Linked DNA regions of Homo sapiens: regions 2 and 3 are each linked to region 1. A link means that fine-mapping ties the variant in region 1 to the plasma level of a protein whose gene starts in the linked region. Region 1 holds a variant in brackets. A gene starts in each other region. All regions are shown on their forward strands.

What was found. PIP is the posterior inclusion probability: the model's chance that the variant is causal. The UK Biobank Pharma Proteomics Project read protein levels with antibody pairs (Olink). The fine-mapping took linkage between variants from a reference panel, not from the people measured, so its PIPs are less certain.
Region 2: it holds the start of LCN2, and the variant in region 1 is fine-mapped to the plasma level of the LCN2 protein (UK Biobank, PIP 0.99).
Region 3: it holds the start of CRISP3, and the variant in region 1 is fine-mapped to the plasma level of the CRISP3 protein (UK Biobank, PIP above 0.99).

Annotation. Positions count from the first base shown.
Region 1 is chr4:54,541,195-54,544,047 of GRCh38, forward strand. No RefSeq gene overlaps it. Among named protein-coding and RNA genes, the nearest start is that of LINC02260, 65 kb to the right of the region's middle. RefSeq lists a cis regulatory region at 1,293-1,904. The variant A/T (reference allele first, on the strand shown) is at 1,514.
Region 2 is chr9:128,148,459-128,150,958 of GRCh38, forward strand. LCN2 (lipocalin 2) reads left to right here and starts at 995. Exons shown (of 7, transcript NM_005564.5): 1 at 995-1,205; 2 at 1,780-1,916. The coding sequence starts at 1,068. RefSeq lists a silencer at 2,345-2,394.
Region 3 is chr6:49,743,074-49,745,926 of GRCh38, forward strand. It overlaps CRISP3 (cysteine rich secretory protein 3), which reads right to left and starts at 1,315. Exons shown (of 8, transcript NM_006061.4): 1 at 1,258-1,315. The coding sequence starts at 1,294.

The DNA of each region.
Region 1 (2,853 bases):
TGCTGTCCAGAATCCTGACTTTTCAGAAAGAGACATGGACAATATTAACAGGGAAGAGGCCTTTGCTCTTCAAGCACCTTGATGGGTTTGCAACGGCACCTTTGAGAGGAGGCTGTATTTGTCTGCTTTATTTAAAGGGGGAAGTTTGAAGTAGAGGTGGTGGGGGCACTGGAGTAGGAAAGGAGTAAGAATGGCAGGATCCTGCATGGACAAAAGGCTGGAGAAAAATCTCCATGGAGGATGAATTTGTAAGTTATATCTGCTATGAGCAGTGCTGTTAAAATATTTACTCCGTAACACTCCCCACCCCCCAGATCCACTCATTATCTCGAACTGCCTGGGGTAAAAGGAGGAGATCAAGGAAGAATCTGGATCCTTTAAAAATGTCATGGGTCAAAACCGTAGGAGCTAGAGGCAAAGAAAACCATGAGAATATAAATCCATGACTATTCACACAACTACTGGGGAAGTCTTTGGATATTTTTCAGGCCACGGAATTAAGGATTCAGGGGAATTTCAGGCAGCTCCCAAGGAGTAGGGAGGCCCCAGATGCTATCTACATTGGAGCAATAATATCCGTGAAATTGTTGGTCATATTTTCAACTCAGGGTCCTGGTCCTGTTCAAATGCTTACAGCAGCAAGGGAGATAAAGGAGTAAAGCAGGCTGGATGTGAGACAGCAGGGAGTGGTAGGCGCTGCAGCAAGCTGTAGGGTGCAAGTCCTATCGGAAGGAGACAATTGCCTCCCAGCTCCAGCGGAGTGTTGCCTTGCAAGAATGCAAGCCCAGTGTTGCCAGATAGTCCACATTTTAAGAGAAGCCAGAAATGCAAATGTTTCAGAAAAACCTCGTTTTTGAAAAATGTTAACTAATTCAGAAAATATTTTCAAACTTCAAGGGTCAAACAAAAGATGTCTCGTGATGTATGTGGTTTCTAATTTAGAAGACAGAACAAATACAGGGATAAGATTCATTTTCAAAACAAGTAAAGAAATGAATGGCATTTAAGTGAGATATGATAGGAAAAGCTCTGATTCATGCATCTTAAATCCAGGGCTTTCGGCTCTGCTTGACTACTATTTGTCTGTATGTTTACAATGAAATAATTTATAATGTCGTGGCCTTCATCTCTTTATCCATAAAATGAAGGCATTAAATCTGACACTTTTTTTAGACTTGGAGATGTGATGATTGAGGGGGCAGAAAGAAAGTGTAAGCAGTGGAAAAATGAGCCCTGGGTGTGTTTCAAAATGTGTTGAATTCATTGACATTTATTATGTGTCTGCAAGGTACATTGCCTTGATCATGGAATTCTTGCTTACTGTGAAAAAGTAAGCATAAACTCAAAAAGCACCTTAATTATTTTGCCTACCTGAGAACAATGCTTTCAAAGAAGTGGGAGAAGAGCCTCCCCCAACTGGAAGCTGTGTTACTGACACTATCAGCAGGTGAGTTACAGAGTCTGTCAGCAACGATAAGAGCACTGGCGTATTTCCTATTCAGACTGACGCTGC[A/T]CTGAGACAGGAACCTAACTGATGTTTGTTCAATAATACCAAGATATGTCACAGAATCTGTGGGGGTGTCCGGTATCTTTTGTCAGCTTAGACTCAAACCCTGGAGAAAATATGTTGCAGACTGTTGCAGATGTTCTGAGATTAAATGATGTTTTCCTGAAAATGCATGAGGCATGGTCTACCGGTTTGCCTATTGGCAAACCGCCTCTTGCTGCCATCAAGACCCCACCCCCTCCCCCAGGCCATTCTGAAAAAGCAGAGCTGCCTCTAGGCCTTTCAGCTTTACCCTGAACCTCAAGACACTCCCACATTCTTCAGGGATTTGGGGATGGGTGGGTGGGTCTTATGATCCCAAAAGGATGGGATAGGGGAGAAGTGGGGTGGGTGGGAGGATGAGAGGTAGATGCAAAAAGATGGGTGGGGAAGAGAGGACCTAAACACAGTGCTGAGATCGAGTAATTTTAGGAGGCAGTACTGTTTGTGGAACATTTCATTCTTTATAGCTACTGTCACATTCTAGTCATTAGACTGCATTTACTTGTGGGTTGTAGAAATTACTTCCCATGGGAAACTAAAGCAATTCCTTCTTCAAAGGATGCTTTGTTTTCTAAGAGAAGAAAGTAAAGCCTATGACAGTGCAGCCAACTATGTAACCTACATTCCCTGCTAAGCCACTCTTGGTTGAAGTTCACTGTTTAGCATGACCACATAAAGAAGTAACCAAGAAATGATGATGATGACGATGATAATGATAATAATAGCTAGCATGTACTGAGCATCTTCTATATGCCAAGCCCTGAACTGAACCTTTATTTATGTGTTTTAATCCCTATAGAAACCCTGGCTATTATCATTAGCCCCATTTTACAGATGAGAAAACTGAGGCTTAAAGAAGCTATATGTGCTCACGATAACACAGCTAGGACTTAAACCTGATCTGCTCTGCTCTGAAGTCCATTCTTACAGGCACTGACCTCTGAATGTACCACATTTGGCTGAGAAGTCCTTTGTCATTTCTGACATAGAATCTCTCCTAGCAAAAACTTCAGGAATAAGGAGTGAATGAAACAGGAGTGCACAAAACAGAGAGTGGTATATCTGAAACTGGAGAAGTCCATGTGAATTTCAGTTTTAATCAATTACATCCATTAGGTGACAGCTGCTTCCCTTCTGCCCTCCAGGTGCCTGCACCTAGAGCTTAAAACATCTGCAAATTAAAGTGAGACTGTGCTGCTGTCCGAGGAAATGAGAGCAGCAGCTTCTGCTCTCTGCGGCCTCTGCCAGCCCAAATCCCATTCTTGCCTTGTTAGCATTTATATAAGACCTCTGGCTGCAGCACC
Region 2 (2,500 bases), not on the chromosome of region 1:
TGCACAGGGCCTACGATCCATCGCTGCCTCCCGAGGATGCCAGCCAGGCCCCCGTTGAGATAACTGCTTCCCTGCTGGACAAGGCTGGGACCAGCCATCTCGGTGACAGTTCCAGAACCCCTGGCCTGGGCTGCTGGGTTCAATGGAAAAAGGCTGTGACTAGAGTCAGGGGGATGGTCTCAGTGACCTCAAGGATAAGGCCAGATCCTTGCACTGTCAGTGACCCAAAGCAACAGGTGTCCAGAGCAGCAGTGTGGCGCCTTCACGCCCCCACACATCAGCCCAACTCACCCAGGACAGGGACTGTAGCCTCAGCACTCAACCCATGTGCCCTGTGTGGGGTCTCTTCCCACTGCACTCACAGGAGAGGAAGGGTCCCTCAGGGGTCCACTGGGGTCCCCTCCTGCAAATGGGGCAAGGAGAGGGGCAAGGGGCTGTCTCAAGGCCCCTGGAGCACATGCAGGTCCTGGACTGGGGCTCCTGGGAGGGCCATGATTCTGGGCTCCATGAGTTCAGAGCAGACGCCTTGTTTTTCCTTGTCCACTGTCAGCCACCCCACCCTTCCCTGACCCTTAAAAGAACCAGGAAACAGCACATGATCTGTTGGAAGGAGGCATTCATTCTTTCCTTTCTGTGGGTGTGGGGAGGGGACCACAGGGCACATACCCCACCCTGGGATCCAGCTGAGCAGGGGGGTCAGAGATGACAGCTCTTCCGGCTCACAGGCCACCGGCCCACATACAGGGCAATCAGAAGAAAGAAACAGCACAAGGAAGGCACAGAGGGAGTCGTTGTCCCTGCCAGAGGTGCAGCACTCCGGGAATGTCCCTCACTCTCCCCGTCCCTCTGTCTTGCCCAATCCTGACCAGGTGCAGAAATCTTGCCAAGTGTTTCCGCAGGAGTTGCTGGCAATTGCCTCACATTCCTGGCCTTGGCAAAGAATGAATCAACCCACCCTAGATCCCATAAATAGGGCCACCCAGGTGAGCCTCTCACTCGCCACCTCCTCTTCCACCCCTGCCAGGCCCAGCAGCCACCACAGCGCCTGCTTCCTCGGCCCTGAAATCATGCCCCTAGGTCTCCTGTGGCTGGGCCTAGCCCTGTTGGGGGCTCTGCATGCCCAGGCCCAGGACTCCACCTCAGACCTGATCCCAGCCCCACCTCTGAGCAAGGTCCCTCTGCAGCAGAACTTCCAGGACAACCAAGTAAGGGGCCAAGAGGGGCACCTGCAGGCAGGGCCTGGGGAAGAGTGGGAGCAGAGGGGAGGAGAGGTGAAGAGACTCAGGAAGAGCGTTGGGCAGGACTCTAGGAGTCCAGGGTCCAGGTTTCAGCTCACTCTGTGCCACCAGGGTCCCCTGGTGGAAACCATGCCCCTTCCCCCCATCCCCACCCCCTCTCAGCCTGAACAGACTCCCCCAGGTCCACATCCCCTCTCCCATAACCCCCATTGTCCAAAGAAGGTGGGAGCACTTTTAGTCCCCCTGCACAGATGAGGAAACTGAGGCTCAGGAAGGCCCACCAGCCACATGCCTCCTCCAGTGAGGAGGTCACCCTCCTCCCTGCCAGACTCAGAACCGCCTCTTCCCCCAGGACTCCCTTCTGGACTGATGGCCTCCTGCTCCTGCCCCTTCACCAGTGCAGGCCCAGCCTGGGCCCTGCTGCCCAGCTAGAGGGGCTCATGGTTCCAAGCTGGGCGGCCCAGAGGTGCCACAGGGACAGAGCTGGAGGGGTGGCTCCTAGGGCCATTCCTGGGTTGTGCCTCTTATCAGTCCCTTGCAGTTCCAGGGGAAGTGGTATGTGGTAGGCCTGGCAGGGAATGCAATTCTCAGAGAAGACAAAGACCCGCAAAAGATGTATGCCACCATCTATGAGCTGAAAGAAGACAAGAGCTACAATGTCACCTCCGTCCTGTTTAGGTGAGGGCCGACATCTCCTGGGGGTGTGAGAGTCAGACTGACGTCACAGGCAAGGGATGGCCAAAGCTGAGGGATCCTGTCGTTCACCTCGCTGTTCTGCCCGGAATTCATCTGTGTTCATCCTTCCTCTGTTCCTTAGAGCAACGTTTATAGCACATTTCCATGCAGACACACAGACAGTGGTGGGGATGGACATGCACAGTCGTTAGAAAACAAGACGGAGAGAGGAGGGGTGCCTGGGAGCGGGAGGAGGGGACACTGGATCCAGCCTGGAACCCCACCCAGTGCCTTCATGGAAGGCTTCCAGGGAGGTGGCCTTAAAAGAGCCAACCTGCTTCAAAAGGAAATGTGGGGTGTTCCCGGCAGGGGCTGGAGTCAGAGAGAGCCCCCCCTTCAGGAAGGAGCAAGCCATCGCAGGGTCACCCTGAGCAGAGCTGCTGAGCAGCCTGGAGGGGCAGGTGGCCACGCTAGCACCTAGCACGGTCCTCAGGCCCCGCCCCAGCGGATCTGCTGCGGAGTGGCTTAGAGCAGGGCTCTTGGGCCGCAGGGTGGGGAGACTTGGTGGGGTGCAGCCTAGGGGGTCG
Region 3 (2,853 bases), not on the chromosome of region 1:
CCTATGCCAATATGCAAAGTTTGCAAAACTGCTAGACTTCATCAAGTAAGAAATTCGTAAAGATATCCAAATAAGAATAGCTGTCTTGCATTTCTTGAGAAGCACTTTTTTTTCAAGGATGAATTCCCTCCCTTTTACTTGAATTCAATAAATAACGTAACTGAAATTCATAGCAATTATCAGATTTACATTACTTGAGAATTCTGACACTCTTCCTCCCAATTCATCCCTGCCTGTTACAAATCAGAAGCCCCAATTTACCTCATAACTTATCAATGTAGGGTAACTCCCAGGCTTGAAACTTGTCATCAATTTAATTTCTTTTGATCCACTTTCAGAGGTCTTAGTCATACAGGCAGACATTCTAGATTTGGTTTTAACTAGCAGAAGAGGCAACACCGGATCTTCTATGGCTATTGCAAATACTCCCAGAGTTTCCTGGATAGCATTTAGCCACAGGGAAGAAAAGCATTTTACTTTAAAATCTTCTGTCTAGTGGTAAATAACCCCTTTCATGTTGTCATTAGGTAGTTCTGTGGTCTCCTACTATCTGACTCTTCAGAATCACTTCTAATATGCTACGGAAGATAAAGCCGTATGTGGAAATTGCTTCCTTAGATGAAATATGCACGATAGATATTATATTTAAATTACCTACATAAACATGACTGAGTAGACTGACTTTTGACTGAAAAACTTCTAAAAGCCTTTTTTTTTTGTTTTTGATCTGAGTGCATTTCATGAGGTAAATTGCATTTTATGTTGATGGTCTTTAATAAAATACTTTTTAATCTTGAGATCAGTGCTATAATTTTGTTTTGACCAATTTAAAACTTTTGCTATGGCATCCCATATAGCTGTATGTTTTAATATTAGTAAAAGTTACTGATGTGAAAGTATGCACACACATATATTCATAGTTTTTCATTTTTCTATTAAAAATAGTTCTAGTACAATTGTTTCCACAAGTCATAGACATGGGAATTAGTTATATTACTTTAGAATGAAAGGTAAAAATTTATTTAAATTTCAAACTGGATAAAAGTGCTTTTGGAATAATAAAGCTGTCTATGTATTAGCTTCTCAGCTTAAAATGAATATATTAAGATAATTACTCTCATTAAAAGTTATCAATAAACTTTGGAAAATTGTAGATAAAATATACGAATATATCACTTTATCATTGATAAGGTATAAATGTGTTGTTCACCTTGAAATAAATAATGTTCACCTTGAAATAAAGGAGTTATCACTTACCAGTGGTTTCCAGAGCAGGATGAAGTATTTGTTTCATCTATTGACAGAAGGAAGGTGCAGAGAGAGAAGGTTAGAGCCGTATATATGAAACACCTATTTCCTGTTTTGGCAAATTCTGGTTGTGCAAGTAACTCTAGATCAACAAGGCCTGAAACAGGATTTGTCATACCAGTAGTCTCAAATTTCATTGCTGGTTTTCTAGTCATGATTTTGAAATTATTTGGTGATTCCTCAAATGGCTTTTAAAAATAAATTGCTATATCAAGTTTTGTAATTGTGCATTTATTCTTTGAAGTTCATATATTACAATTTATCCATGTTTTTGCCAGTCAATAGTTTGAAAATTCTTAGCCCAATTATTAGCATCACAACATTAGAGTTTTCAGAATTATTTCTGTTGGATTGAAATTAAGCTCATAATTTTTATGAACTCTAGAGAACACAATGTTTTTTACAGCTATCTAAAATGTTTATTAATAATCTATTGGACATTACTGTTTTGGATAATAATTTTATCTTTAATGTTTGTAAATACAAGGCCACAGTGACTTTCAGAACTCAATGGCCAAACACACCATAACTCATTGGTATTTCTATATTCAAAGATGTGCTGTATTTACTTGTATTTTCTGGTTGTATAAAATTAAAGATAATATTGATCTCCAAGCTAAATTATCATTATTTGGTTCTGTTCATCTATGGAAGATGTCAATCATTCCAGGCTTGTTTCCATAGCACAATAATGAAGTGGGGTGGACTAACAATTTCAGATTTCCTCTGATTCTAAAATACAATAATCTTAAATATTGAGTTTATATAAATAAAGAAGTATAAATTAATAAATCACAAGTAGCATATACATAGCACGCAGACATTTCTGCATGCTCATATTGGCATATAGATTGCACCTTGTGGTGCATAATTCAATAGTTTCTGTTCATTTTCATTTTTATATTTAGCTTTATTGATCAATGTGACAAAATGTATAATCACAGATCAATGTCTACACAATAGGCACATTTTAAAATTATAGTTAATTTTGAGTTCAAGAATTGGATACTTCTAAATGTCTGTTATAAGAGAGTTGAGAACTCAGAAACTCAGGTCAGATTTTACCATTAAAAAATGGTTAACCATTTGCTGCCATGTCTCCAAGTAACTCCTAGAATCTGTTTACTTTATGAACATGTGAAGTGGAAGCTCTCAATAAACCAAATCAGCTATGTGGAAAAAATCACCATGGAACAACCTTCTACACAATCCTCTTTCTGTGGCAAAATGTATTTTGTGGGGAAGGACCAGACCCAGAAGCATCCACAGCCCATTCTCTTCTCTACTTAGTGGTGTAGAATGTTGTTAAAAGCTTGATATTTCTGTTTTAATGGAAATGGGCTAAATTTCTATACCAATGTGTATTGGGAAATTTTTATATTTTATTATTTTATTTTATATCATATTTTATTTTATTTGAAGCAGGATCTCACTCTATCATCCAAACTGGAGTGCAGTGGTTAGATCAGAACTCATTGTAGCCTTGAATTTCTGGGCTCAAGGGATCTCCTATTTCAGCTTCCCAAGGAGCTGAGACCATGGTGT